Linked DNA regions of Homo sapiens: all the other regions are linked to region 5. The links come from fine-mapping of genetic effects on plasma protein levels. A gene starts in region 5. Each other region holds a variant in brackets. All regions are shown on one strand. Distances are between the middles of the regions.

Region 1 (6,576 bases), 75 kb before region 5:
ATGTATTTTCCGTAACACACATTAAAAATATATTAGTTATAAAAATAAAATGCATCAATCTGTATTACCTAAAATCATCTGTGTAGCACTGTGGTTCACTTTGGAAAGCAGCGGATTCTGCCTGACTATAGTCACTTAATAGTCACAGACTTCATAAAGTTTACACAGTGCTCTCAAAAACCAATAACAGAGGATTATAGGGAGCCTCTTCACTTGCTGCTGTGTTTTTTGAGACAGGGTCTCACTCTGTCACCCAGGCTGGAGTGCAGTGGTACAATCACAGCACACTGCAGCCTCGACCTCCTGGGCTCAAGCAATCTTCCCACCTCAGCCTGTTGAGTAGCTGAGACCACAGGCGCAGGCCCCCACACCCAGCTAATTCTCTAAAATTTTTTGTAGAGACAGGTCTTGCTATGTTGCTTAGGCTGGTCTCAAACTCCTGCGCTCAAGCAATTCTCCATCAGCCTCCCAAATTGCTGGGATTTCAGGCGTGAGCCACTGTGTCCAGCCCCATTTTTTTAGATGGATAAATTTGGGGATAAAAAGACATGAGATTTCTTTTTAACCAATTTTACAAATTCTTAAAAAAAAAAAAAACATTGTTAGCAGCAACACTTCCATCCTGTTTCCCTTTATTACATGTATACAGCACTTCCTATTTTTTAAAAGTTTCACAGTTATTTCTCTTTGCATGTAAAAGAATTCTTATACCAACCCCACTCTGTCAGTACCTCCAAATTGACTCATTTTCTTATTTAGATTTCATTTAAGGATAAATTGGATGAACAAGTAGTTATTACAAACAAAGATACACACTCCTCTAGACAGCAAAAGTAGGCTATATGGCCTTGATGTTTTGAAGGAGAATATGCCCAGTGTTGAGCAATTCATATAAATCTTGTTGATTTTAACCCATTTGTTTTTTTCACTTTAGTTTACTAATCCTTAGAAATGGGTTTCTGTGTTTCCTTCTGTAATCACTGAGTCACAGGTGTGCTTTAAGAAGGAAATATGAGAAAAATATAGAAGTTAGGAGATGAATTCTAGACCTGACTGCTAATCAGCTGATCTCTATACATCTTCATTTTCCTCTTCTGTTAAATGGGCACAATAAGAATTGTTTAAGAATGAATATAGGCCAGGCGCAGTGGCTCACAACTGTCATCCCAGCACTTTGATAGGCCAAGGCGGGTGGATCGCTTGAGCCCAGGAGTTTGAGAGCAGTCTGGGAAATGAGGCGAAATCCCGTCTCTACTAAAAATACAAAAAAAAAATAGACAGGCATAGTGGCATGCACCTGTAGTCCCTGCTACTCAGGAGGCTGAGGCACAAGAATTGCATGAGTCTGGGAGGTGGAGGTTGCAGTGAGCCGAGATTGTGCCACTGCACTCTACCCTGGGCATCAGAGAGAGAGAGAGAGAGACCCTGTCTCAAAAAAAGAAAAAAAAAAAGAAAAGAAAAAAAGAATATAATACTTTTACCTTTCTCAGAGGATAGTTGAAATAGTGTGTCTGGCACTATACAATAAATGCGGAAACACATGTGAAGGGGTGATAGTAATGATTGAGTCAGGTAGTTTGGGGTCTTGTGGACTGTGTGTCTTTTATGATGTCATCTGCTGGTATCTGATTAGAGTGTGTTAGTTTAACATACAGAGATAGTTCTGAGATTACCTCACTGAAACAACTGTTGATGCAGCTAATATCAGAACACCTACACTGCCCTGAATACAATAATGATGAGGATGGATGGATGTTCCTATCTTCCTAACGTAATCTCTGCATTTGTTTTCTGAGAACCTATGAAACAGCCCCCACCTTTTGTTGTCTTTCAGTCCCAGAACTCATTGATGGGAAGACATTCACAGCGACCGTGGTGGGTTTGAACCCTTGGGTTGAATATGAATTCCGCACAGTTGCAGCCAACGTGATTGGGATTGGGGAGCCCAGCCGCCCCTCAGAGAAACGGAGAACAGAAGAAGCTCGTGAGTAGCACCCGAGATTCAGATCATCTGTTCTGCCAGCTGCTGTTCCTTAGGAAAAGCGTTTGAATTCTTGCTGCTCTTCAGCGCTCATGCGGCTCTGTGTTAGCTCACCCTTCCCTTTAAATGTTTATAATGATAGAAATCAGGCCAGGAGAAGCCCAGCTGAACACGCAACGGGTTTCAATCAAGAGTTGTTTTCTTCATTAGGTCCACTTGTACAGCAAGAGACACACGGTGCTTAGTCCTCTCAAAAGCCAGCCCTTTCTTCATTGGTTCATTTGTCACCAAGATTCTAACAGAATTTCAAAAAAAAATCCCACATTTCAAATAAAATTATCTCACATAAGTAACTAATGGCAAAGAATAATTTGTGACTGCTCTGGACACAGCCACCATGGGGTAATCCTGTTTAGAATAGAAATAAAAAATAATTTCTTCAGAAATGTTCACTTAGATTATCTTTCTTAGGGTATAAACCATTCCCAGAAACGAAGATTCAGAACATCGTGCTCATTCGAACAAGACCAGTCAGCAATTCAGTATGGCCCTCTGCATATGCAGCTTGAATGAGCACGGGGAGAGAAGAACAAGTTCATCAGGGTCAGCCGTACTTTTACTTAGCTGGTGTAAAGCAAGAGGCCTACATGTGCCGTCTTTTATAGAGTTCCCGCCTGTAGAGAGGCCAGTGTGTTGAAGGAATAATAAGGTCCCTACACAAATAGGAGTTCTGACCCTACTCTCAGAAAAGCAAAAACTCATCTAGATCTATTTGATTGGCTTTAACCAAGGAGACATACCCAGTCACCAGCCACATACCCCAGTGAGACCTTTTTAAATGTGGCCCGGAGCCTTTCAGTTACGTGATGACAATATAGCTAGTCCCCTGCTTTCTTTTCCCCTTCCAAAACCATAATTGAATTAATTCCCCTCAGCAATCCTGAGGTGGAAGCTCGCATAATTTCCTCTCTTTTATAGAGAAAACTGGTGATCAAAGAGGTTAAGCTCAGTGAGCCGGGGGTCAACTTCTGTCTGCCACTTCCTTCAACACTCAGATCAAAACTCTTCCTCCCAGAAGCCATTCGCCCACCCCAGCTCTGAGCAGGGCGCTACTCCGGAACGCCCCCCGCTTCTCCATGCTGACTGTTCCTTACCCTGGTTGTCGACCTTGCTCTAACTGGTGCAGGCGCTCCTCCACTCCAACCAGCTTGTAAGCTCTGCCTGGGCAGAGCTTGTACTCTTCCCTTTGTGTATCTCCACGTGGCTCATAAACGCATAACCAAACATTAGGACCAGACTTCAGTCCTTTCCTCCCTTCGGGAACCCCTCGGCCTCTAGGGATGGAGCTGAACAATTGGTCAGACGTGTCAGATAACACGTGTGCCTTGTTGAATGGGAAACAGGTAATTAATAGCAGTCTCCTTGGTACATTTCACTTCCTC[G/A]AGCGGTCGCCGTGGGCCCCTTGACAATGCTGTTGCTGATCTCCAGAGACAAAGGGGCGTGCCTCAGAGTACTCACTGAAAGTGAGTCACCTCTGCCAGGCAACCTTCCTGGCCCTCATTCGCCTTTGCCGCCTGACATAACTTGTTTTTTGTCTCCTTGTGCAGTCCCCGAAGTCACACCAGCGAATGTCAGTGGTGGCGGAGGCAGCAAATCTGAACTGGTTATAACCTGGGAGGTAAATGAATCACAGAATAAAAGGAACGTACACGCATCGAAGCTATTTTATTATTTTCCTCCATGTTAGACATAGCTGGGAAGTTTCCTCCTCTGTTTTTAACAGTGAAAATTCATTTGGGTTCAGACACTCCCTCTCACGTAGCTAATGGCTAGCAGGAAGGACGGCACTTGCCCATCCATTGTTGAGGCAAGTTTTAATTCAATCCATCACAGTAAAAACAATTATGAAGGGAAGACAACACACGTTACAAAAAAAAATAAAGAAGGCTGTTTCAGAGAAAACTAGTTTTTCTTTTCTTCCTGAATTGCTGCATGGCCAATTGATTTAAAACGTCTGCCAGCAATAGATTCAGTGCACCAGCACAATTTCCTGGCAATTGGCTTTGCTTCTAGAAGGGGCCCTCTTTTAGGAGGTATTTTTTAAAACAACCTGGAGGAAAGTTAGTCACCAATTTATTAAAAATTGGCTTTGAGAGAAGAGGTGGGAGCTTTAGAAAGGGTTCTTCATGTTTTTGAAAGATTCTAAACAGCCCCAGAAATTAAAATCTCTCATTTACCCAAAGCACAGCAGTGAAAGAAATCACTCATCCCTCCAGCTGAACTCTTCCCTCTGAGAGGGAGGATCTTCAGCCAAGATGGTTTTTCTTCCTTCAGTGAGATCTTTTGTCTATTTGGCAATGGAAGAAGATTAGTATTAGAGGATACGTGTTGGAAATGTGGTTTTTCAGGAGACCGATGTCCAGTGTTTTTTTTTTTACAATCATTTCCAACCATTTCAGAGCTGGGTCTGCCCCATCAAAGAGCAAGCTCTGGACTGCAGATCCTCATTACGTTTTCAACCCTGTCCAGTACATCATAACTGTTTAAGATAGACTGACTGCAAGCCCTAAATTTAAAAGACTGTTAACAAAACGCCAAATAAGATGGGTGGAGAAGGATGTAGACAAGAATGTTACAAGGGAAACAAAAACGATTTTTGCATTTGAGTGAAACTACTGTGATTTCTGAAGACCACCTTCCTTCTTTCCCAGACGGTCCCTGAGGAATTACAGAATGGTCGAGGCTTTGGTTATGTGGTGGCCTTCCGGCCCTACGGTAAAATGATCTGGATGCTGACAGTGCTGGCCTCAGCTGATGCCTCTAGATACGTGTTCAGGAATGAGAGCGTGCACCCCTTCTCTCCCTTTGAGGTTAAAGTAGGTGTCTTCAACAACAAAGGAGAAGGCCCTTTCAGTCCCACCACGGTGGTGTATTCTGCAGAAGAAGGTATCGTTTATGCTGCCTAGATCATTGACTGTTAATATTTCTTCAATTCTAAAATGTGGATTGTAGCACGTACAATCAATTTCGCATGGTACATGTATCTTGAAGGCATACCTGATTTGAGAAGAGGATAATGTAAACAATTTGGTTCGCTGTCCACCATGAATCTCTTGAAAAGATAGCGACTGCTCTGTATATGAAAACACTTGGCTGTCCATTATTGATTCCATTGCTAAGGACCAGAATTGCAAATACCATATAAGATCTTCATATCTATCTATATGTTATCATTACTTTCAAAAGAATTTTATTTTTGCCTTTAAGTGAATATCAAAATATAATTTGCATTTTCTTACCACTTGTATTTTCATAAAGCATATGGTACTTGTGGCTCACACCTGTAATCCCAACACTTTTGGGAGGCCAAGGCGGGTGGATCACCTGAGGTTGGGAGTTCGGGACCAGCCTGACCAATATGGAGAAAACCCATCTCTACTAAAAATATAAAATTAGCCAGTTGTAGTGGCACATCCCTGTAATCCCAGCTACTCAGGAGGCTGAGACAGGAGAATCACTTGAACCCAGGAGGCGGAGGTTGCGGTGAGCCGAGATCGCACCACTGCACTCCAGCCTGGGCAACAAGAGCAAAACTCCATCTCAAAAAAAAAAAAAAATCTCACTTATTAAAGAAAAGAGTAAGTCATGAAGCAGTGTGATTGCGCTCACTGTCATCCACACCATCATTATGTTTAACATTTCTCACACATTATTATCACCTCCATGCTATCCCTGCTCTCGGGATGCCTCTCACACAGTCTTCGTTACCTTTGGAGTTCGTCTATGTTGTTTTAAAGATGATGCTCAGAATGGGACCATGTTAAAACATCTGAAAGGTGAATCATTGATTTAGAGTCAGTGAAGATGCAATAACTTATTCCCAATCAGAGAGATCATCCCCTTAGACTCAGTAGCCCTCCATGATCTAGCTGCTGCCTCTCTGTCTGCCTCAGCTGCTGATGCCTTTCCCTGCATATTTCATGTTCCAACCATTGCCAAAGGATTTACAATTATTCAAACAAGCTTCAGCCCTTTTCATAGCCTTCAACTTCTCTTAGATAATAGTTCATGTCTCTGGATTATGAAAATGAGAGGAAAAGGGGAAAAGGACAGTCAGCTGACTTGACTAAGATTCAAGAGAGCTGGATGACACTTCAGGTTCACACTGCAATCTGTATGATCTTGGATAACTCAGGTATACTCTGTGGGCCTCAGCATCTTTGGCTGCAAAGGAGAGGCTAGACTGACTGTTTCCCAAATTTCAGTTATTTTTGCCAGATTTCTGCCATAGCTGTGTACCATTTGTATATGTTCACATTTTTCTTTCAATAGTCTTCCTTAAAAAAAATTTAGTGGGCAAGCACAGTGGCTCATGCCTGTAATCCCAGCACTTTGGGAGGGGGATGTGGGAGGATAGCATGAGCCTAGGAGTTTGAGACCAACCTGGGCAACATAGCAAGATCCAAGTCTTTACAAAAAAACATTAGCCAGGCGTGTTGGCACATGTGTGTGTGGTCCCAGCTACTTGGGAGGCTGAGGCGGGAGGATGGCTTGAGCTCAGGAGGTCAGGCTGCAGTGAGCCATGATTGTGCCAC
Region 2 (5,000 bases), 22 kb before region 5:
CTGAGTGATGTGAGGGCTACCCCTGTAAGGCTGAGCTGGTTGTGTGTTGCACAACTTTAGGGGACGCTATTCTCCCTTGGGAACTCGGTAACTTAGCACGACCAGCCCCCTGGCAGATTCAGAACAGTTCTCCATTTATTAGGCCTTTCCTTATCTTTCCCAGTCTTCAGTGGAAATCTACCTGCTGTGTGTCAGATCGGAGTCATTTTCACATGGGCTGATGGGTCACTGCCCGAGACTTTCCTGAAGACCTACCCCATAGCTTAAGCGAATGAATTAAATAGTAGAACATTTTGGCATGTGCCTGAACTAAATCTCTCCTATGTATACTCTTCCAATGGTTGATGAATACCTCATAGGATTCATGAGAGATGGCATCCACATGCTTGATCACCCATAATCACAAAGGTTGGCTACCAAGATGTCTTTTTTTTTTTTTGAGATGTCGCCCAGGCTGGAGTACAGTGGCGCAATCTTGGCTCACTGCAACCTCTGCCTCCTGGGTTCAAGTGATTCTCCTGCCTCCCGAGTAGCTGGGACTACAGGCGCGCACCACCACGCCCAGCTAATTTTTTGTATTTTTAGTAGAGACAAGTTTCACCATGTTAGCCAGGATGGTGTCGATCTCCTGATCTGCCCACCTCGGCCTCCCAAAGTGCTGGGATTACTGGTGTGAGCCACCGCACCCATCCCCAAGATCTCTTAAATAAGACTTTAATCTACCCAGCACTTTAAAGCTTGCAGAATCCTGTCCCACCATGCCAGAGTGTCCAGAGATCAAGTGCTAGAGTCAGTTAATCTGGGGTTAGAGCCCCATCCCTGCCACTTGTTGGCCATGCAGAACAGAGTTAAGCCAATTACCTAAACTTTCCAAACAAGTTTTTTGATAGGACTAAGATTATGTATTTAGCATAGTGCTTGGCAAAATAAATAAAAATTAAAAAACACATGTAATCTGCTATCCCTGCTGTTGTTTTTATTTCAGATACGGTGTGGGGCAGGAAAGCTGGATGTTATCTCCTTTATCTTGAGAACCCTAGGAAACAGAGAGAAATTATTTGTCTGGGGATACACAATCAATCCTTGTAAAGGCTGAATGTTAAACCTGGGCTTTCTATGTAAGGCTCCAGTCTTCTTCCCACCATCCCATGCTCTTATAGACCTAGTGCAACAGTTAACGACGTGTGTGTGCCTCCCCAGGCTGAATGGTTTATCATACACATGAGACGCACTAGTTGCTTTTTAACTGTTTCCTTCTCTCATACAATGCCTATGTTGACTTGCCGGAAACACCTGGATAATAGCAAACACAGGGTTTGAATTTTCTTTTTTTTTTTTTTCTTTTCTTTCTTTTTTTTTTTTTTGAGATGGAGTCTCACTCTATTGCCCGGGCTGGAGTGCAGTGGTGCGATCTCGGCTCACTGCAAGCTCCGCCTCCCGGGTTCACGCCATTCTCCTGCCTCAGCCTCCCGAGTAGCTGGGACTACAGGCGCCCGCCACCACGCCCGGCTAATTTTTTGTTGTTGTATTTTTTAGTAGAGACAGGGTTTCACCATGTTACCGAGGATGGTCTCGATCTCCTGACCTCGTGATCTGCCCATCTCGGCCTCCCAAAGTGCTGGGATTACAGGAGTGAGCCACCACGCCCGGCCAACACAGGGTATGAATTTTCTATCTTCAAGGTGCAATACCACATGTCCTGGGTGTGGAATTGACATCTGTGTCAGGGTAAGACTGGAAATGTGCCCCTTCATCCATAGCTGCCATTGGGTATATTATTATCCTTCATGGATCTCACTGACAGAGACGATGCCCATCTTACTTGCCAAGCAAACTAGTCCATTTGATCGTAACATAAACAGTTGCAGAGCTAACACAGGAGTCCCGGTGATGCATGGACCTCTTTATACTCTATATCTGCTAGGCTGAAGGCTCAGGGACAGATCCAGATTTTGTGGGACCCTATAGATTACACAGTTTTGGAATCTTCTTTTTTTAAAAAAGTATAAAGTCAAAATTAGGTATGGGAAAATCGAAGAGATGGAGAACAGACTACTCGTTGCCAGAGTTCAGGGATAGAAGAGAGGAGAGAGAGATGGGTGTATTTATAAAAGTGTAACAAGTGATGATGCAACTGCTCTGTATCTTGACTGTGGTGATGGGTACATGAACTTAAACATGTGCTAAAATTGCATAGAACCAAACAGACACATACAAATGAGGACATATGGCTCGGC[A/G]CAGCGGCTCATGCCTGTAATCCCAGCACTTTGGGAGGCTGAGGCCGGTGGATCACCTGAAGTCAGGAGTTCGAGACCAGCCTGACCAACGTGGTGAAACCCTGTCTCTACTAAAAATACAAAAATTAGCCAGGCGTGGTGGCATGTGCCTGCAGTCCCAGCTACACGGGAGGCTGAGACAGGAGAATCGCTCGAACCCAGGAGGCAGAGGTTGCAGTAAGCTGAGATGGCGCCACTGCACTCCAGCCAGGGCGACAGAGCAAGACTCTGTCCAAAAAGAAACAAAAAAACAAACAAACAAATGAGGACATATAAAATTGATGAAATCAGTAAGATCTGGATTACCAACACCAATATTCTATTCCACTATTGTACTATAGTTTTGTAAGATGTTACCCTTGAGGAAAACTGGATGAAAGAGACACAGGATCTCTATTATTTCTTCCCACAGCTTGTGAGTGTGATAATTATTTCAAAATAAAAAGTTTAATTTAAAAAATGGATAGAAGTAGAAACAAAACTTGGAAAAAAAACAGGCACCAGGTCTAGGAGAGTTGGCGCTAATGAGAAGCCTAGACACTTAAAAACTTCACTGGCTTCATGGCAAATCTATTCCTGATTGAAAAGGCAGTAGACCGAGAGAAAATTAGTCACAATAGAGATATGAAACCATTTTAAGACCCACGAGTGAACGGGTACGTTTCTGGGATTACCTTTTTTGATCACAAGGAAGGCTGCCAATGTAAAATAAACATAAGCTACTTACCCACATAAATAGGTTGGCTCCACTCACTCCAGAGCCCTGCCTCTCTGCACATGGAGCTCACTGCTGCTCTCACTTGAACATCGTACTTAGAAAGATCATCAATTATTGAGATGAATGCATTGGTCATCAATTTTTCTATCTAAGTGGGGAAAGATAGCATTAGAAGAATCTCTAGACACCTAATTTAGTTCTGCCGATTATCAGAATGGGAGGTCCTATATAGGTCATGTGACTCACTGTTCAGCAAGTCCTTTAAAATCAACAGGGCACACATTAATTCGTTTATGCTAGGTGCGTTAGTGTGGATGTGTTGGCAGTCACCCTTCAGTGGAACGCTATCTTGTAACCAAAATATACGAAATGATCAACGGTCAAGATCCAGGTGTTCCTATCCAGGCCCAGCTGATGTTTCCAGACTGAAAGACTGGAGTGGCCTATGCTAGAATGCATTATTCCCTCACCTTGTCTCTCCATAATCTATAGTCACATTACTAAATAATGTCACATGAACGCTAGATTGTCTAGTGTTGAAATGAAGCTATTTTCTCATGAATGAGCCCTTCTTCTTTTTCCTTCTACTGATCATGGTCGCCACCATCCAGCTAGTCCCCTGTACCAGAGATGTGCTCCTGACACCTGTATCTTGAATACCCCCGGAGGTGTTTCTCCCTTTTTTACTCCAGCCCTGTGACCATTGCCTATTTTAGCTCTTATTATCTTTTGCTTGGACCTTTGCAGTAGCCGCTAACTGATATCATATGTCCATGTCGCCCCTCCCCACTCACATCCAGTTTTCATGCTGCTACCAAAAATCTTCTTTTACTCTGCAAATGTAGACATATTTCTCTATTGTGTAAAACTCTTCAGTGGCATCCATTGCCCAGAGTCATGGTTTTTAAAAAAGAAGCCACTTCTTTATTTTTTAGCAAAATCTTATAGAGCCACTCTGGGAGAAATCACAATGTCAGATACAGAGTCATGATTTCAGCATTGGTCTTATGTCCAGGCATCCAGGCAGACTGAATTACTTGCCACTTGACTGAAAGAACCATACTCTCTCAAGCATAAAGTTACTCCTTTTCCTAGGCTGGTGCAAGTCAGGAACTATTTATTACTGGCTTGTGATGGGCTAAATACAGATAAAATTATGACTGCAATTTGGAAGTTTTGATAGCAATTTGACATTGCCATGATATCCAAACACATGATCAGTGAACTGACACTTTACATGTCTTTGGCTATATTTAATTTTTTCTAGCAGATCATTTTTATTGTATTTGACAAAAGCACCAATCTATGGTAGATTAGACATTATAAAAACACACGCACACACACGTGCACACACAGTCCTTCAGTGTAAGTATTTTGGGAAGCTCTGGCTAAGAAAGTCCTTCTCATGTTTTCTCACCAGACTAGTTTCTCTTCATCCTTACAGATTCCGTTCAATTCCTCTCTGCAGAGCAGGCTCTGTGCCCACACCCCCATCTCTAGCTGTACTGGCTTTTCCTGTGGGAGGGCAACCCCAAGGCTGGGCAAGTATGTCACAAGATTGGGTCACTCCATGGCAGAAACAGTCTTATTTCTCACAAAGAAGCCAATTTGTAAATATTTGTTGAATCTAATTGAATTGGCTTTGTCTACTCTCTGTAAGACATAAGTTGGAATCCTATTTTTTTTCCTAGCTTTGTGACTGTGGGAGAGTTACTTCATCTCTTTTGCCTCACTTTCCTATAAAATGGGAATGGTAATTACATCATAGAATTATGTGAGGATGGAATAAACACATAATAAAGCTTGACACATAATTGATGCTCAAGAAATGTTGATTGGCTTTCTTCTCAGTTCCTTTCCCCTTGAAATTTTTGTCTATTAGTGCTAATGAGTTTTTTTAATTGTAAAATACATATAATGAAATTTACCATCTTAATCCTTTTTAAGTGTACAGCTTTGTGATATTAAATAGTTTCACATTGTTGTGTCACCAATGTTCAACACTC
Region 3 (5,000 bases), 15 kb before region 5:
CTACTCCAAATAGAGTTGAATGCTTGAATTACTTCCCCCCCTCAGCTCATTGCAAGACTCACCCACCATCCCCCTTTACTACTCAAGTTGTACCAGGCCCAGAATAAACCTGACCACTGAGAGAACATTTCCCTGGACCTTCCACCAAGCCTTGCCTCTTCCCAGTAGGTATGTGGCCCTGAACAAATCACTTCCCCTTTCTGAGATTCAGTTTTTAATTTTAATTTCATTTTGTTTACTGCGTCTTTTGGTTTTTGTTTGTTTGGGGGCTGGAGCAGGAAGCTTCAGTTTTCTTTTGCATCAAAAAGAATGGATTGGGGCAGGGCGTGGGGGCTCACGCCTGTAATCCCAGCACTTTGGGAGGCCGAGGCGGGTGGATCACGAGGTCAGGAGATCGAAACCATCCTGGCTAACGTGGTGAAACCCCCTCTCTACTAAAAATACAAAAAATTAGCTGAGCGTGGTGGTGGGCGCCTGTAGTCCCAGCTACTCAGGAGGCTGAGGCAGGAGAATGGCGTGAACCCAGCAGGCGGAGCTTGCAGTGAGCCGAGATCGCGCCACTGCACTCCAACCTGGGTGACAGAGCAAGAAATCTGTCTCAAAAAAAAAAAAAGAAGAAGAAGAAGAAGAAGAGTGGATTGGGCTAAATTTGTCTTTACTTAGGACTCTAATGTCCTTTCCCTTGAGATCTCACTTGATTGTCTTATGGTCCGGTGAGGTGAGGGGAAATGAATTCTTAATGAGTGTCCTTGTCTTAGGTAATATGACTTAGATCTCACAATTAATAGGGAAAAGCTAGGAGTGGGATCCACTGGCTTCAGAGCCTCCTATACCCTATGAAGAAAATTCTTAACCAAGAAAGTACTTATTTATTTTAGTAATCCTAGGAATCAGCCTCAATAAAATGAAAATCATAAAAGAAAAATGAATTCCTGTGGTCTGTACTAGATCATATCCATTTTCATATTAATATCATTGTTTCCTAGGTCTTCCTCGGCATCTTTTATTGCCTATTTTCATGAAAGTGACATTTTTAGTTCACCTAAGAAATATATTACTGGAGAGAATTGCATAACCTCTTTAGTAAGGGCTATGATTCTTTACACAAAGTTATATTCCATTGGATATAGATATGTCACAGCCAAATCATACCTTCTAAATAATATTGTAGTGTATTTATTAAACCTTTATGCCAGGCACTGTTCTAAGTGCTTTATCATTAGTAACACAATTCTCACGAAGACTGCACAGGAAGTATTGATTCCTCTCCATTGTTTCAGATAAGAAGATTAGGCACAAAGGAATGATCAGCTTGTCCAAGGTCACTCAGCCAGTGGTGGAGCCAGGATCCAAATCCAGGCAGTCTGGCCCCACAGCCCATAATAACCACCCACCATTGAAATCTGGAATCTCCATAACTAAGAATGCCATGTGAGAGCGCCTGATGAGTTTCACTAATAGAACTATCTGGGATGAGGGAGAGTGTCTTCTCTATTGAGAACTGAGCAGACAAAACCACGAATAGAATTTTTAGAGCTGAGAATTGCACACTGAGAGATATTCGAGCTGCAGAACATCCAGGAGATGGGCCAGAACAGTGAGAAATTCAGAGAGAGAGAGATGTTAGCCTGGGAGAAGAAGGGCTTCTGGATGGGAAACGTGCTGCCTGTGAACAGCTAAGAGAGGCTATTCTATAGGGAAGGGACTCAAATCACCTGGGGTGGCACTAGTCCATCACAGGACCCAGGGGCAGAAATTTCACAAAACCTGTCAGAACTCATGAAGGATTAAATGGTCTCTTTTAAGCAGCTAAATTCACTTTTTCTGGTGCAGTGATTCTCAACTGGGGGAAATTTTACCCCTTGAGGGGCATTTGGCAAAGTCTGAGACTTTTTTAAAAGTCACAGCTCAAGGACAGAGGGGCATACTACTGGCATCTAGTGTGTAGAGGCCAGAGATGCCGCTAAATATCCTACAGTGCCCAGCACAGCCCTCCATAACACAGAGTTGTCCAGCAAAACTCACTGGTGGTGTTGGAATGGAGAACCTTGCCCCAGTGGTTTTCAAACATGGGTCTGATGCTTACTTGGCATCAGAGAAGCAGTAAAACTAGGTGATCTTTATAACCCTTCCTTCCAGTGCTGAGATTCCGAGATTCAGTTATTTCAGCTTTGGGTTAAGTCGGTCTTACCAATGGCGTGAAGGGCAAACAGCTGATCAAAGGGCCTGATAGCAGAGTGCTTGCTGGAGCCGTTAACAAGCACCGCAAGCCAGTCACGCCCTTTGCTGAGGATAAAAGTCCTGGGAAACCAGCATGCGATATTTCTCCCCAGTGTGTCTTTGCTGTATTCTTGGCATTCTTCAGTCCAAGAGCCATACCTAAATTGGAACATTTACGAGTGTTATGAGGTTGCAGGAAACAACCATTTGCCTAAGTAAAAATAGGTACAGTACTAACCTATAGTAGAGAAAATACTGCGTGTCCTCAGGGGCATCTGTGCCAACAAGCCAGGTGCAGTGAAGGGAAACTTGGTATGACCTTAAACGTGAATAATTGTCTTCTGTAGTGTTTGTGGTGCAAGTTAAATTCACAA[T/C]TGAGGTTCCAGGAGACCCTAGGTAGTCAAAAGTAAAAAGGACAAAACATTGCCATGGCAAACTCTGAATTTCATGCTTCTTTTGGAACTATAGTGATGTGAACGTCGTATTCATCACCAAAAAATAATCATCTTCACATTTTTTTTTCCCTTGAGACAGAGCCTCACTCTGTCACCCAGGCTGCAGTGCAGTGTTGCGATCTTGGCTCACTGCAACCTCTGCCTCCTGGCTTGGAGCGATTCTCGTGCCTCAGCCTCCCAAGTAGCTGAGATGACAGGTGTGTACCACCACACCTGGCTAATTTTTGTATTTTCAGTAGAGCTGGCGTTTCACCATGATGGCCAGGCTGGTCTTGAACTCCTGACCTCAAGTGATCCACCCACAGCCTCCTAAAGTGCTGGAATTACAGGCATGAGCCACCATGCCCGGCCATGATCACATATTTCTAGAAACCTACTAACTACAAAAGGCCAACTTACTGGAGATATGGAATTAGAATTATAAAGTCCCCATTTCTGATATTCGAGAGCTTCCCAGCTATTTTGTTTGGGGCCTGGGGGTGGTGTTTGTGCAATACATGTGTGGAAGTTCAAGAGAAGTACAATATATTGTCATTTTGAGGTTGATGTCCGGCAACTTTGGTGCTCTAATGCCACATTTGTTAATAACTAGCTGTGAGACATTGACCCCCACTCTTCTGGGCTCTGTGTTTTCAACTGTAAAGGAGCGGGTTGGTACAGGAAGGTCTTGCGTATCCCTTTCCATCCTAGAATTGTGTGATTCATTAGGTTGTATCCAAATTCTTCATGAATTACATAGGTTGCTGCTCAGAAGAAATGAGTTTTGACAACACTGCAAGATTGCAGACTTTGCAGACTTGATGCACATTAGCATGTTAAAGTCCTCTTTAATATACTAGGACTTGAAGAAAACCTTGAATTGGCCAGGCACGGTGCTCATGCCTGTAATCCCAGTGCTCTGGGAGGCCAAGGCGGGTGGATATCTCTTGAGCCCAGGAGTTTGAGACCAGCCCAGGCAACATGGTGAAACCTCGTCTTTGCAAAAAATATAAAAATTAGGTGTGGTGGCATGCACCTGTAGTCCCAGCACTTTGGGAGGCTGAGGCGGGCAGATTGTTTGAGCTCAGGAGTTTGAAACAAGACTGGGCAACATGGCAAAACCCCAACTCTACAAAAAATACAAAAATTAGCCAGGTGTGGCGGCATGTGCCTATAGTTCCAGCTACTCGGGAGGTTGAGGTGGGAGGATCACTTGAGCTGGGGAGGTCGAGGCTGCAATGAACCAAGATCATACCACTACACTCCAGCCTGGGCAACAGAGTGAGACCCTGTCTCAAAAAACAAAACCTTCAGATTTTATTTTATTTATTATTATTATTATTATTATTATTATTTGGAAACAGAGTCATTCTGTCACCCAGGCTAGAGTGCAGTGGCATGATCTCAGCTCACTGCAACCTCACCCTCCCGGGTTCAAGCAGTTCTCCTGCCTCAGCCTCCCGAGTAACTGGGATTACAGGCACGTGCCACCACACTCAGCTAATTTTTGTATATTTAGTAGAGACGGGGTTTCACCATGTTGGCCAGGCTGGTCTCGAACACTTAACCTCAAGTGATCTACCCGCCTCGGCCTCCCAAAGTGCTGGGATTACAGGCGTGAGCGACCGCACCCGGCCAAGATTTTAAATGCAACCTTTTTATGTTTGCTTCATTAAGGATTTCTCAAATTATGTGACTAGAAAGGCTTGTTTTCATTTCAACCTCTCGTTGCTGTATTAACTGTTGGTCTTTAAAATACACTGTGGGAAACACTGGCCTTGTTGGTGGTTGCTCAGAGAAGGAAACAAGCTCTTGCACCTGGGCCAGGAAGGACCGCATTCAAGTGGGAGCCTTGAGAGATAGAAGGGGGTCTTTTGATCGTAGCTTAAGTGAGCTGTAGATCATTTTTATCACTGTCAGCCAGTGTCTTTCAAGAAGCAGAGGGAGAAGATGATGAGAGAGAGCCTCTTATTACCTGTAGAGAAGTTAAAGATGGATTTCTTCTTCATATCTGTGCTTTTGCACAGACAAAAAGAAGAACTACCTCAAAGCAAATTGACTTATTCAGTTCATGTATATATGCATATATTAGGTTGATGTAAAAGTAATTGTGATTTTGGTCATTACTTTTGCACCAACCTAATATATATTTGTCCATGCATTAAATGACCAGAAAGTCCACACCCAAGTACACTTTAGAGATCCTGACAACTCTTTGTCTTATAGTTCTCATCCAAAGAATCATTTAAGTGAATTCCACTTGGTTCAAAACAGAAATAATTTTTATTAGTGTCATCCTGTATCAGAGTGTTCAGAGGATAATTAGAATTGTAGAAATGTAAGCTG
Region 4 (6,303 bases), 48 kb before region 5:
TATAATATGTGCCAGACTCAGTGCAAATCAACCTACCGATTTAGTTACCATTTATTATTCCTATTTTATACACAGAGGATTGAGGTTGACAGGTTCACATTTGTCCCTGATCACACAGTTGATCAGAGAGACCAGGAATTGAAATGCTGGTGGCTTGGGTTTAGGGCCCTACTCCAAAACATTAGATGTCTCTATCTGTAAATAGATGATACATAAACAATAAGGTAGGTAGATAGATAAATAGACAGATAGATACGGTTCCCATATAGCAACAAGAAGGAAAGGCAGTCATGAGCTTCAGTCTGCTCTAAAGTGGCTCAGCTTCTCTGCTTCTCTTTCCTTGACTGCAAATGTTGTTTTTTGCGTGTTCGTTGTCCTTGACTTCAGGTGTCTTAGAGCTGTTTCTTTAAACTCCGGCTACCCTTCAAGATCAGGATTACCCAATAAAATAGGAGAGGAGCTATTAAACTTAGATTTCAGATAAAAAAAAAATTATGCTTCCTTAGTATAAGTATGCCCCATGTGATATTTATTTGAAATTCAACTTTAACTGAGCCTCTTATTTTTATTTGCTAAATCTGGCAACCTGACACCAGGAGGTCTTCATTACTCTCATTGAAGTAATTAATTTGTAATTCAAAATTTCAGGGTCTTGCGAATGTGTTGTCAGATCTCTGAAGGTCAATGGCTCTGAGGGCGAGACATGAAGTTTGCTGTTTTGAGTTCTGTTTCGTTTGCTGAACTCTCCTTCCCACTTTTCCTTGGATGGTGTGAGGATGGGATGTGTGTGTGTCCAGAGAGACAGGGCTGGTGGGTGAAGTTCCTCTTAGAGCTGGCAGAAAAGAGGTTTTGTTTTTTTTTTGTTTGTTTTTTGAGACGGAATTTTGCTCTTGTTGCCCAGGATAGAGTGCAATGGCGCAATCTCGGCTCACTGCAACCTCCGCCTCCCGGGTTCAAGTGATTCTCCTGCCTCAGCGTCCTGAGTAGCTGGGATTACAAGCATGCGCCGCCACGCCTGGCTAATTTTGTATTTTTAGTAGAGACGGGTTTCTCCATGTTGGTCAGGCTGGTCTCGAACCCCTGATCTCAGGTGATCCACCCACCTTGGCTTCTCAAAGTGCTGAGATGACAGGCGTGAGGCACCGCACCCAGCCCAGAAAAGAGTTTTAAGACAAGGGAATCTTTCCCCAGCAAAGGCCCACATTATGTGGCAAGAAGGTGTTAAAGCAGGTGGAAGGGATTCCAGAAATATTCTGAAAGCTTAAAAAAATGGGTTTGTTGCCAGGAACATAGGCCACAGCACAGCTCGTTGGAAAACTATGTAGTGGACGCATCGTTTATCAACTGCAGTGTTGGGACCAAATATCCGAGACCAAATAACTGGCAGTTAGAATTGGCCCAGTTGTTCCTCTTGAATTTAGTGGTTAACAAATAAGATATTGAGTGCATACTATGTGTCAAGCACTTGCTGGGCACTGGAGAAACTGAGATAAATAGGGTTAAGGCTTCCCTCATGGTTCACTGAAGGAGACAGAAATACACTTATTGAAGGATGGTGTGAATAGTGTGACAGATAAAGGTATGAACACAATGCTGGACCTGTGTTTCTTGCAAAACCTACTTATAATGAGGTTAAGTTCAGTCAAACACAATTTTTTTTACCATTGATCCCCCAGGATAGAATATTTTCATTTGATTAAACATGATTATTTTCCCAAATTGGTTGCTTTTCTTAAAAAAAAGAAAAACACATTCATAAATATTTTGAATCCATTAAGCCATGTGTCAATATTGGCCCTCTGGGAAAATCTAGCTCATTGCCCGCTTTTTTTGTAAATCAAGATTTATTGCAACATAGCCATGCTGATTTATAGATTGCCTACGGCCACTCTGTGCTATCACGGAAGAACTGAGTGGCTGCCACAAAGACCATATGGTCCTCAAAGCTGAAAATATTTACTATCTAGCCCTTTAAGAAGAGTTTGCTGGCTCGTGCCTGTAATTCCAACACTTTGGGAGGCCAAGGGCTGGATGATCACTTGAGCCCAGTAGTTCAAGACCAGCCTGGGCAACATGGGAGACCCTGTGTCTACAAAAAAATTTTATAAATTAGCTGGGCATGGTGGCACACCCATGTGGTCCCAGCTACGCGAGAGGCTGAGGTGGGAGGATCATTTGAGCCCGGGAGGTCGAGGCTGGAGTGAACGGTGATCACAGCACTGCACTCCAGCCTTTCCAGCCTGGGTGAGACAGGAGACCCTGTCTTAAAAAAAAAAAAAAAAAGGCAGCAGCAGCTTGCCGACCTTTAAACTACGACACCAGTACTTTATTGCTGATTTCGTTCTTGCAATTTTCCCCTCAGGTTTCTGTGTTCTTCCAGTTTATTACTTGGCAGGGACAAATCTTTGCTTTTAATTTTAATAAATGAAACAAACCTAATAAAACACCTTCAAGTTGAAAAGAGTCCGCTAGAACTTTAAAATCATGCACATGGGCCATATGGGCGGCTTTGTGTTGCTCCTGACAACCAACAACGCAGATGTCTACTGAGAGCCAAATGGTGGGTGATGCCGGCCGCGGAGGTGGAGGGCAGCGTTTCTGAGACCAGCATCACACCCACTGTGAGTTTTTACTACTTCATTAATTTAAGCTCCAGTGACGATTTAACTTCTGCTATAACCACACAGCTTTAATAAATGAACCTACCATTAGAACATAGTTCTTTAGAATCTATATTGTTTTCCGTTCTTTTAAATGTTTAATAAGCTCACTTCCTTTTCCTTCGTCTGGTTACTCAACCAGCAGTCAGTTCCTCCTTGGGGCTTATGGACACAAAGATAAGTCAGACACTGCTCTTGGCCTCAGAGTGTTTGCACTGGAAACGAGACAGAGCATTGGTGAGGAGTCCAGGCCAGGTGCGGTGGCTCACGCCTGTCATCCCAGCACTTTGGGAGGCCGAGGCGGGTGGATCACGAGGTCAGGAGATCGAGACCATCCTGGCCAACATGGTGAAAACCCGTCTCTGCTAAAAATATAAAAATTAGCTGGCTGTGGTGGCACGTGCCTGTAGGCCCAGCTACTGGGGAGGCTGAGGCAGGAGAATGGCTTGAGACCCGGAGGCGGCGATTGCAGTGAACCGAGATCTCGCCACCGCACTCCAGCCTGGGCGACAGAGTCAGACTCTGTCTCAAAATAAATAAATAAATGAAAGTCCAATCACTGATAGAATTAAACAAAAGGAACATAGAGGGACACTTAATTCAAACTGGAAGTTGAGCAAAGATTTTCAGGTGGCAAAGAGCCGAGACTTAGAAGATAAATCAAAATGTCAACAAAATGAAAAGAGGTTGAAAAGGCTTTTTCCACCAGAGAAAGTTTCGGCAGAGGCATGGAGTGATGCAGTAGCATGGAGCTACAGGGAAATCATCAGCACATTGGTGAGAATGGAGGTAGGAGTATTTGGGTATGTGCCTGGAGAGCTAGTAAGGAGCTGAGTCATAGTGGACTTTGCCTTAAAAGGAGCTTTAACTTGAAGGTGATGGGGAGTTATATAGGCAGATGTGCCTTTTACATTGATCCTTCAAAGGGAGGAAATACTGGAGGCCATGAGTTCAGTTCAGAGGCTACTGTAATAGTCCTAGCTGAGAGATGGAGGAAGACAATGGTGGGGACAGAGAAGGGGAATATTTAGGGGAAAAATGAGAAAGGTACCCACCCCTCTTTAATTGCAGACTTAGACAATTCACTGTCATTTATGTTTAATATTTCTCATTCTGAAACATATTTATATTCACATCTATTACCTACAAAACAGGAGATAAGCATGATTGTCTTATAGTACAATACAAAATTCCAAAGGAAGGAATGGTTTTGAAAAAATTTGCACCCTGGTACTCAATTTGAAGGATGTAGAAGCAGGAATAGCTACAGTCCTTAGGCTAGCACCAAGTCCTATTCTAATTAGGTTTTTCACCT[T/G]TACTTGTGCCATCAGAGATTGTTTTCAGTTCTCTGTTCTCACTTCCAGATATCTACTTTTTCTTTAACAAATTAGCACCTCAGGCTTCTTAATTCCACCAGCAGATGGTCCTGACACATAGAAGTCTCACCATGAAAACGTTTGGATTTTTAATCAGGATGTTCTTTGCCCACGTGGATTCTTCCCCAGCCTGCATGAATAGCTTGAGGTCTGAGGCATTTCAATGAGGCTCAGGTGGTCGGGCTGTTGGCAAATGTGACCTTCACCCTCCAGTCTCCCCAGCACTCCCCCATGCTGCACGCAGTGAATTCCAAATGCCAAGGAAAGAAATTGGGCTAAAAATCCCTATTGGAACGGATATCTTGGAAAAGCATGTTTGTTCTGATCCCGTGGCTGTGGAGGCTCTAGGAGAAAAGTGACTCTCTACACTCGTCCTAGTGAGAGATGGCAAGAGATGGGAGCCAATATCATGACTTTACCTTACATCAACCTGCTGCTGATGGTGTTTACTGTTAAGTGAATTTCAAACTCTTTGACTTGCTATGACAAGGCTGGTGAGAACAGTATAGACCACTCACAGTGAGCCACTTCTGAAATGCCTCTTACACAGCAATTTATACATAACCATTTAGACACTTTGGCAGCAAAAACATCCAGGTTGCAGTAGCCCAGTTGTTAGGCACATGTGTCTCCTGGTTGCTTCTAACTAACCGCATTCTCATTAGATACCCAGCTTCCTCCCCCTGTCATTATTGTAGGCCTTGAGGATCTCTGCCAAATACTGTTCAGTCTAACCTATATACAAGGTGCCGTATCAGGGCTGACAGAGGGTTTAAGAAACATTTATATTTTCTTAAGTCAGATACTGTCCTAGACACTGCAGATAAAAAGACGTATTTCACACAAGCTCCATCCTCCTGGAAGCCGCAGTCTAGAGGGGAGGCCTCCCAGCTGTTAATGGTATATTCTACAATGCAGTAGCTCTAACACGGGTATGAGGCCCAGAATGAGAATCCAGAGGCGGGATCAACCAACTCTGCTTTTGAAGGCTTCATGGAGGAAGTGATGATGGTTACGGGTTCCCAAAGAATGACTATGAGTTGCACAGGGCAAGAAGGGAGGAAGGAGTTCCCAATCCACCAAGGAGGCCAATGGGCTACTTTGTGTTGCTCCTGAAACACATATACCAAGGGCCAGATAACGGTACCAGCTCAGGGAAGTGTGGCAAGGAGCTCCACAGAGCCCAGGTGATCTATGGCTGCTGAGTGGAGGGAGGAGTCTGAAGTGGGCACCACACCAAGCACTGAAGAGCTGGCCACATTTGTGGAGGGGGAGCTCCCTGCTTCTGTTCCTGCCTCCTAAGCAGAGGCAGTTTCCACAATGCCAACTGTCTGGGTTGTGGTTTGAAAGAGATCAGACAGGGTGCTCCAAGCCGCCCCAAAAGGACAGTTTTCTGGGGACAGGACTTTTCTGTCACATCTTCCTTCAGCGGCTGATTTTCAAATTTTGGTATTCATAAGACTCTCCTGGAGCAGCAGTTCTCCGAGTGTGTCCTGGAGACCAGCAGCATGAGCATCACCTGAGAACTTGTTAGAAACGCAGCTTTTCAGACCTCACCCAGACCTATTCAGTTAGAGACTCTAAGAATGGAGCCCACTCCTCTGTGTCTTAAGGAGCCCTCCAGGCGCCTCTGATTCTGACCTAAGGTGTTCATTACAAATACAGTTTCCTGGCCAGGAATGGTGGTTCATGCCTGTAATCCCAGTACTTTGGAAGGCTGAGGCCGGTGTATCGCTTGAGCCCAGGAGTTCGAGATGAACCTAGACAGCATGGCAAAACCCCAGCTTTACAAAAAAAAATACAAAAAAGAGCTGGGAATGGTGTTATGCACCTGTAGTCCCAGCTACTTGGGAGGGTGAGGGAGGAGGATGGCTTGAGCCCAGGACAGGGAGGTTGTAGTGAGCTAAGATCACATCACTACACTCTAGCCTGGGAGACAGAACAAGACTGTCTCCACCACCCACCCCACAAAAAAAAAAAAAAAAAAAAACAAAAACAGGTTTGAGATTATGAATCATTTGAGTGACCAAACATTTTAAACATTTTGCCAACTATTGCAGCACCTCCATGGGTGTTGCCTTCTCAGCCACACCCCTAAGCAGGCCTCAGCTTTCCCTGACACTCCTCTGCACATTTCTGGGGTCACTTTTACCTGAGCCTGGTATTCAACTCCTCACTATGCCATTTCCTATCAACTTCTCTGAACCTTAGTAACTGCAACTATAAAATGGGACAGTAATACAGATTACTATAAGACAGTGCAGGCT
Region 5 (6,372 bases):
AAACGAAAGAATCTCTCGTCCAGATAGCCATTATCTGATAACTGTCTTGTCTGCATTTTCACTCTCTTTCAGAGTTGGTTTGCTCTCTTCAGGAGTGGGAATTAACTTTTACTCATGGTGACAAGGTAAACAAGTTTTCCGTGGGTACTCTAAAGCGTTGCATTTCTGTTTTGTTTATGTGCCTTGTTTGGCTACAGTAGTTACTGTGCCTCTGTCTCCTAGGCAACACTGACACATGATTTGATAGGAAGTAAGGCCTGAGGAGTACCCTCTCCCCACTCACTAGGCAATAGCAGCAATTCTCTGCCCTTAGAGAACCGCCTTAGCTCTTCTCTGCTTTGTGAGCAGGTCTGGTACCCTCAAGTAAATATGTGTGGGGGATGCGTTTCTGGGTGTGATAAATTGCTGCTGTCTGTCACCTGAGATCATCCTACACAAATTGTAACAATGGCAGTGTTGGTCTGTGGGTGCACCCAAGACCACCTTCCTCACGTCACATCCATTTTACCACCCAGCTGTCTTCAGAATGCTTCAATTTCAGCAAACCTCCTTGGCTTTTCCTGTCCTTTGTTCCATTTCTGTTTGATTCCTTCTGGGGAATTTCGAGGTGGCTAGCTAGCAAAGCTGGCTTTAAAAAAGTAGCTTAGCGTGTGAATAGATAAGAGTAGTGCTTATTGTATGACCCACGGCAGAGAGTAGTAAGTAGTTGCCTTTGGAAGGAGACCTTCAGTCTAGCCTAAGCGATGAGTGATGCAGGATTCCCTGTCTCCTTAGGAGCTGACTGGGAGAGTCTCAGACAGAGCAGATGCAGAAAGATGGTGGCCCAGGTTGGATCAGTGGTTCTGTTTGTGAGATGAGAGACAGGCTTCCTGGAGGCAATTTCCAAAAGGCTCAGTGTAGAAGCTGTGCAAGTACAGTCAGCGTGTGTGCCTGGGGTTCCCAAGGTGACCATTTTAGCAGTTGCCAAAATGAAACCGGAGCAATTGTTATCAGGTTGAAAATTGTTGTCAGACCTGAAAAATGTGATTTTCCTCGGGGAAAGGGGAAGTAAAACAAGGAACAGAGAGAGATCCATTTATTTGCTAAGAGGCACCCAGAAAAGTTTAGATATAGTATCAACTATCTGGCCTACTCTTTTAAGTCCTGCCCATCTGTTTATACATGTAACATATTTGTCACTAATGAAACCTTAAAAATACTTATTAATCATTGGGAAGACAGTAATTTCTGGCTTAAAAGCCTGCTTTAATGGCCTCTCTCCGTATATATATATGTATATTTTTTGAGATGAAGTCTCACTCTGTCGCCCAGGCTGGAGTGCAGTGGCGCAATCTCTGCTCACTGCAACCTCTGCCTCCCAGGTTCAAGCGATTCTCTTGCCTCAGCCTCCCGAGTAGTTGGGATTACAGGCACCCGCCACCACGCCTGGCTAATTTTTTGTATTTTTGGTAGAGATGGGGTTTCACCATGTTGGCCAGGCTTGTCTCAAATTCCTGACCTCAAGTGATGCACCCGCCTTGGCCTCTTAAAGTTCTGGGATTACAGGTGTGAGCCACCACACTCAGCCAATGGTCTGTATATTTCTTACATTCATTTACTCAAATATTCATTGAATGCACCTATGCACTATGCTAGGCGCGGTGAAGGGTATAAAGAAAATTAGATCTGGCTGCTCCTTCCATACCACCTTCCTGGGTATATGATCTTTAATTAACTACGCCAATAAAAACAAACAAACAAACAAAGCAAACACATGCTCATACAGAAACACTGTCTCTATGTTTCTGTATAAGCACAAACGAAAAAATGAGAGGCAGGGACTTTTTTTTTTTCTGGCGGGGGGTTGCGGGGGGGTTGTTTGTTTGTTTTGAGATGGAATTTCAGTCTTGTTGCCTAGGCTGGAGTGCAATGGCGCGATCTCAGCTCACCACAACCTCCACCTCCCGGGTTCAACCGATTCTCCTGCCTCAGCCTCCTGAGTAGCTGGGATTACAGGCCCCCGCCACCACACCCAGCTAATTTTTTTGTATTTTTAGTAGAGATGGGGTTTCACCACGCTGGTCAGTCTGGTCTTGAACTCCTGACAGGTGATCCACCCACCTCGGCCTCCCAAAGTGCTGGGATTACAGACGTGAGCCACTGAGCGAGGCCTGTTTGGTTTTTTATGGCAATAATTTAATTCTTTATAATAAAGTGTAAACGTCCAAAGACAGTATGATAGAACATGCTGGAAGAATTCACAAAAGTCGTTTTTTTAAAAAGTGAAATTAAATGTGTCTGCATCCTTTAAGCAAAACAATGTGAGTTTAGCCAAATAGAAATATGAATAGTAATAAAACGAAAATCATGGTTCAGTGGCTCTACCATGAACTTTGGTTAAAGGAGCTTATTAAAGGTATCAACTTCTAGAACTTGATTCCATGGAAATAATGGAAAAATGTAGATCAAGATTTATACAAAAGAGAGCAAAATTCATTGTACCTTTACAATAGTAAAATAGTAAAAGTACTATAGGAATGGTGAAGAGAAATATGTAACTGCTCAAGGTTGAAATATGTGATGTGGATGTCAAAAGGAATGTTTATCAATAACTTTTTTTTTTCTTTTGAGACAGGGTGGTGCCCTGTCACCCAGGCTGGAGTGCAGTGGCAGGATCTCGGCTCACTGCAGTCTCTGCCTCCTGGGTTCAAGTGATTCTCGTGCCTTAGCCCCCGGAGTAGCTGGGATTGCAGGCATGTGCCACCATGCCAGATAATTTTTGTATTTTTAGTAGGGAGAGGGTTTCACCATGTTGGCCAGGGTGGTCTCAAACTCCTGGCTTGTGATCCTCCCACCTTGGCCTCCCAAAGTGCTGGGATTACAGGTATGAGCCAATCAAGAACTTTTAATAACATAGGGTATTATGAAAAAATGTTAAGTAAAAACAACAGGAGGGTATACACACATGTAATTTTTTTTTACAGTCTTATTTTTGGTCAGAAGATCAGACTAACAGGAATAGTTATCTCTAAGTGGTAGGTGTATTAGTCAGCTATTGCTACAGAACAAGCAACCACAGAACCCTCAGTGGTAAACTGTGATAGGCATGTATTTGTAGCCCATGTGTCTGAGTTTTGACTGGGGTCTGCTTAATCTTGGGCTGGGATCCAGATCACAAAGTGAGTTCAGATTTGTTCCAAGTATCTGCCATTCATTTGGAACCAGTGGCTACCCAGGGCATAATCTTTTTATGGTGACAGCAAAAGTGCAAGAGAGCAGGACCAACTGCACAAGCACGCATCAAGCATCTGCTCATGTCACATTCCCTGACATCTCAAGAGGCTGAGCAAATTGCATGGCCAAGCCCGGAGTCAAATGGACGAAGCCCAAAGTACATTCCACCATGATAAGGCCATGATAAGGATGTGGACATGGACAACTCCTAGTGGGGAGTGAAGAAATGGGACCAACAGTTCATTCTACCACGGCAGGGTTAGTGTTTCTCTTACTTTTATTCTGTGTTTCTATATTTACAAACGTTTTATTCTGTACAAATGCAGGCAGAAAAAGTTATTTTAAAAAATATTAGAGACATACAGATCAATTTAATAGAATTGAGAGTCAAAAATAAACTCTCGCATTTAGGGTCAATTGATTTTTGACAAGAGTGTCAAGACAATTCAGCGGGGAAAAGATCAGCCTTTCAATAAGTGGTGCATATCCACATGCAAAAGAATGCCTCGCAGCATAGACAAAAATGAATTCCAATGGGATCAAAGACCTAAAAGTAAGAGGCAAAACTATAAAATTCTTAGAAGAAAACATAGGCATAAATCTTCATGACCTTCATTTTGTTTCTTTCTTTTTTTTTTTTTTTTTTTTTGAGACAGAATCTTACTCTGTCGCCTAGGCTGGAGTGCAGTGGTATGATCTCAGCTCACTGCCAACTCCCCTGCCTCCTGGATTCATGCGATTCTCCTGCCTCAGCCTCCCGAGAAGTTGGGATTACAGGCGTGTGCCACCACACCCGGCTAAGTTTTATATTTTTACTAGAGATGGGGTTTTGCCATGTTGGCCAGGCTGGTCTCGAACTCCTGATCTCAGGTGATCCACCCACCTTGGCCTCCCAAAGAGCTGGGATTACAGGCATGAGCCGCCGCACCTACCCAATGGTTTCTTCAATAAGATACAAAAGCAGACACAACAAAAGAAAAAAATAGATAAACTGGATTTCACCAAAATTAAAAGCTTTTGTGCTTCAAAGGATACCATGAAGAAAGTGAAAAAAGACCGGATGCAGTGGCTCACGTCTCTAATCCCAGCACTTTGGGAAGCCAAGGTAGGCAGATCACCTGAGGTCAGGAGTTTAAGACCAGCCTGACCAGCATGGTGAAACCCTGTCTCTACTAAAAAACACAAAAATTAGCCAGGTGTGGTGGCAGGTGCCTGTAATCCCAGCTACTCAAAGGCTGAGACAGGAGAATGGCTTGAACTCGGGAGGCGAAGGTTGCAGTGAGCTGAGATCGTGCCACTGCACTCCAGCCTGGTCAACAGAGCAAGACTCTGTCTGAAATAAAATAAAATAAAATACAAGGAAGTGAAAAGACAAGCCACAGCATGGGAAAAATATTTGCAAAGACATATCTGACAAGGAACTTTTATTTAGAATATGTCAAAAACTCTTAAAACCAAACAATAAAAAGAAAAATAACCCACTTTAGCCTGTAATACCAGCACTTTGGGAGGTTGAGGTGGGAGGATAGCTTGAGCCCAGGAGTTTGAGGCTCTGGTGAGTCGTGTTCGTGCCACTGTACTCCAGTCTGGGTGACAGAGCAAGACCTTTCTCAAAAAACGAAAGAAAGATAGAAAGAAAAAAGTAAAATAACCCAGTTTAAGCATGGGATAAAGAATTTGAACAGACATATCTCCAGAGAAGATGTACCAACAGCAAAGGTGCCTAGGAACATCTGCTCCATATCATTAGCTATTGGAAATGCAAATGAAAACCACACTGAGATACCTCTTCACACCCACTCCAATGGCTGAAATGAAAAGGACAATAACAACTGTTGATGAAGATGTGGAAACACTGGAACCCTCACATACTGTTGCTGGGGAGGTAAAGTGAGGTGGCCAATTTGGAAAACAGCCTGGCAGTTCGTCAAAAGGTTAAATGTGGAGTTCCCATACGACTGAGTAATTGCATTCCTAGGCAAATACCCACCCAAGAGAGTTAAAATCATGTGTCTACATAAAAATTTATATGTGAATATTCACAGAAGAATTAGTTATAATGGCCAAAGAGTGAAAACAGCCCAAATGTCCAGCAACTGATGAATGGATAAAGAATATGTGGTATATCCATGCCGTGAAATATTATTCAGCCATCAAAAGAAGCACTGATACTACAACATGGATGAACCTTGAACACATGAAGCTAAGTAAAAGAAGTCAGTCACAAAAGATCACACACTGCATGATTCCACTTATATGAAATGTCCAGGATAAGCAAATCTATAGAGATAGAAAATAGATTCATGGTTGCCTAGGGCTGCCGGGGGATGGAGGGAGTTTGGGAAAAATAAGAAGTTACTGCTAATGGGTATGAGATTTTCTTCTGGGATAACACAAATATTTTAAATTGATTGTATTGATGGTTTCCAACTCTGTGAATATATTACAACCATTGACTTGTACGCTTTGAATAGGTGAATTTTATGATATGTAAGTTATATCTCAATAAAACTGTCATTAAAAAATACCCTAGCAGGATTAGATACCCTCAAAGGATTGAAACAGAATTCTGGGTAATCGTTAGAAAAATTCTAGTGTAAAATCAATCTGTTGAGTTATCCCATGTAGCTAAAATTAAAAGCATATCTTTATTCAGTAAAGAATTTCAGTAGCTTAAGCTTTTTTCAGTTCTTTAGTCCTTTTTTCAGTTCTTTAGTCAGAGACCAGTTCTTTGCTCTGAAAACCAGATACAGGAAATCAACCAGAATGTGTAAAAACAATAGCAAAAACTACACAATTAAACTTCTTCTTCTTATTATTATTATTATTATTTTGAGATGGAGTCTCTTTCTGTCACCCAGGCTGGAGTGCAGTGGTACGATCTAGGCTCACTGCAACTTCTGCCTTCTGAGTTCAAGCTATTCTCCTGCCTCAGCCTCCTGAGTAGCCAGGACTACAGGTGTGCGCCACTACGCCCGGCTATTTTTTTTTTTTGTATTTTTTAGTACAGATGGGGTTTCGCCATGTTGGCAAGGCTGCTCTCGAACTCCTGACCTCAGGTGGTCTGCCCACCTCGGCCTCCCAAAGTGCTGGGATTACAGGCATGAGCCACCACACCTGGGCTAAACTTATGTTGTTAATGTAGATTAATGTCCCATT

Which allele goes with the higher level. Alleles are on the strand shown, and positions count from the first base shown. The strength of an association depends on the size of the effect and on how common the allele is.
For the plasma level of the protein whose gene starts at base 176 in region 5, allele G in region 1 goes with a higher level than allele A (moderate association).
With allele G in place of A in region 2, the plasma level of the protein whose gene starts at base 176 in region 5 is lower (weak association).
As copies of T replace C in region 3, the plasma level of the protein whose gene starts at base 176 in region 5 goes down (strong association).
With allele T in place of G in region 4, the plasma level of the protein whose gene starts at base 176 in region 5 is lower (strong association).

What was found. PIP is the posterior inclusion probability: the model's chance that the variant is causal. Protein levels are from antibody-based Olink assays in UK Biobank. Linkage for the fine-mapping came from a reference panel and not from the study's own genotypes, which makes the PIPs less certain.
Region 1: its variant is fine-mapped to the plasma level of the IL5RA protein (UK Biobank, PIP above 0.99).
Region 2: its variant is fine-mapped to the plasma level of the IL5RA protein (UK Biobank, PIP above 0.99).
Region 3: its variant is fine-mapped to the plasma level of the IL5RA protein (UK Biobank, PIP above 0.99). The variant lies in the coding sequence of IL5RA. If it changes the protein, the assay may bind it differently, which can mimic a change of level.
Region 4: its variant is fine-mapped to the plasma level of the IL5RA protein (UK Biobank, PIP above 0.99).

Annotation. Positions count from the first base shown.
Region 1 is chr3:3,035,345-3,041,920 of GRCh38, forward strand. It overlaps CNTN4 (contactin 4), which reads left to right. Exons shown (of 25, transcript NM_175607.3): 18 at 1,835-1,984; 19 at 3,589-3,659; 20 at 4,693-4,927. CNTN4-AS1 (CNTN4 antisense RNA 1) reads right to left here. Exons shown (of 4, transcript NR_046554.1): 3 at 5,701-5,810; 4 at 4,317-5,038. Among named protein-coding and RNA genes, the nearest start is that of CNTN4-AS1, 23 kb to the right of the region's middle. RefSeq lists enhancers at 2,769-3,968, 3,203-3,312. The variant G/A (reference allele first, on the strand shown) is at 3,424.
Region 2 is chr3:3,089,221-3,094,220 of GRCh38, forward strand. It overlaps IL5RA (interleukin 5 receptor subunit alpha), which reads right to left. Exons shown (of 12, transcript NM_175726.4): 9 at 3,004-3,142. Among named protein-coding and RNA genes, the nearest start is that of IL5RA, 19 kb to the right of the region's middle. RefSeq lists a silencer at 1-31. The variant A/G (reference allele first, on the strand shown) is at 2,238.
Region 3 is chr3:3,095,679-3,100,678 of GRCh38, forward strand. It overlaps IL5RA (interleukin 5 receptor subunit alpha), which reads right to left. Exons shown (of 12, transcript NM_175726.4): 6 at 2,459-2,612; 7 at 2,192-2,379. Among named protein-coding and RNA genes, the nearest start is that of IL5RA, 12 kb to the right of the region's middle. The variant T/C (reference allele first, on the strand shown) is at 2,595.
Region 4 is chr3:3,062,583-3,068,885 of GRCh38, forward strand. It overlaps IL5RA (interleukin 5 receptor subunit alpha), which reads right to left. Exons shown (of 12, transcript NM_175726.4): 12 at 3,742-6,303. Among named protein-coding and RNA genes, the nearest start is that of CNTN4-AS1, 4.6 kb to the left of the region's middle. The variant T/G (reference allele first, on the strand shown) is at 3,976.
Region 5 is chr3:3,110,199-3,116,570 of GRCh38, forward strand. It overlaps IL5RA (interleukin 5 receptor subunit alpha), which reads right to left and starts at 176. Exons shown (of 12, transcript NM_175726.4): 1 at 1-176.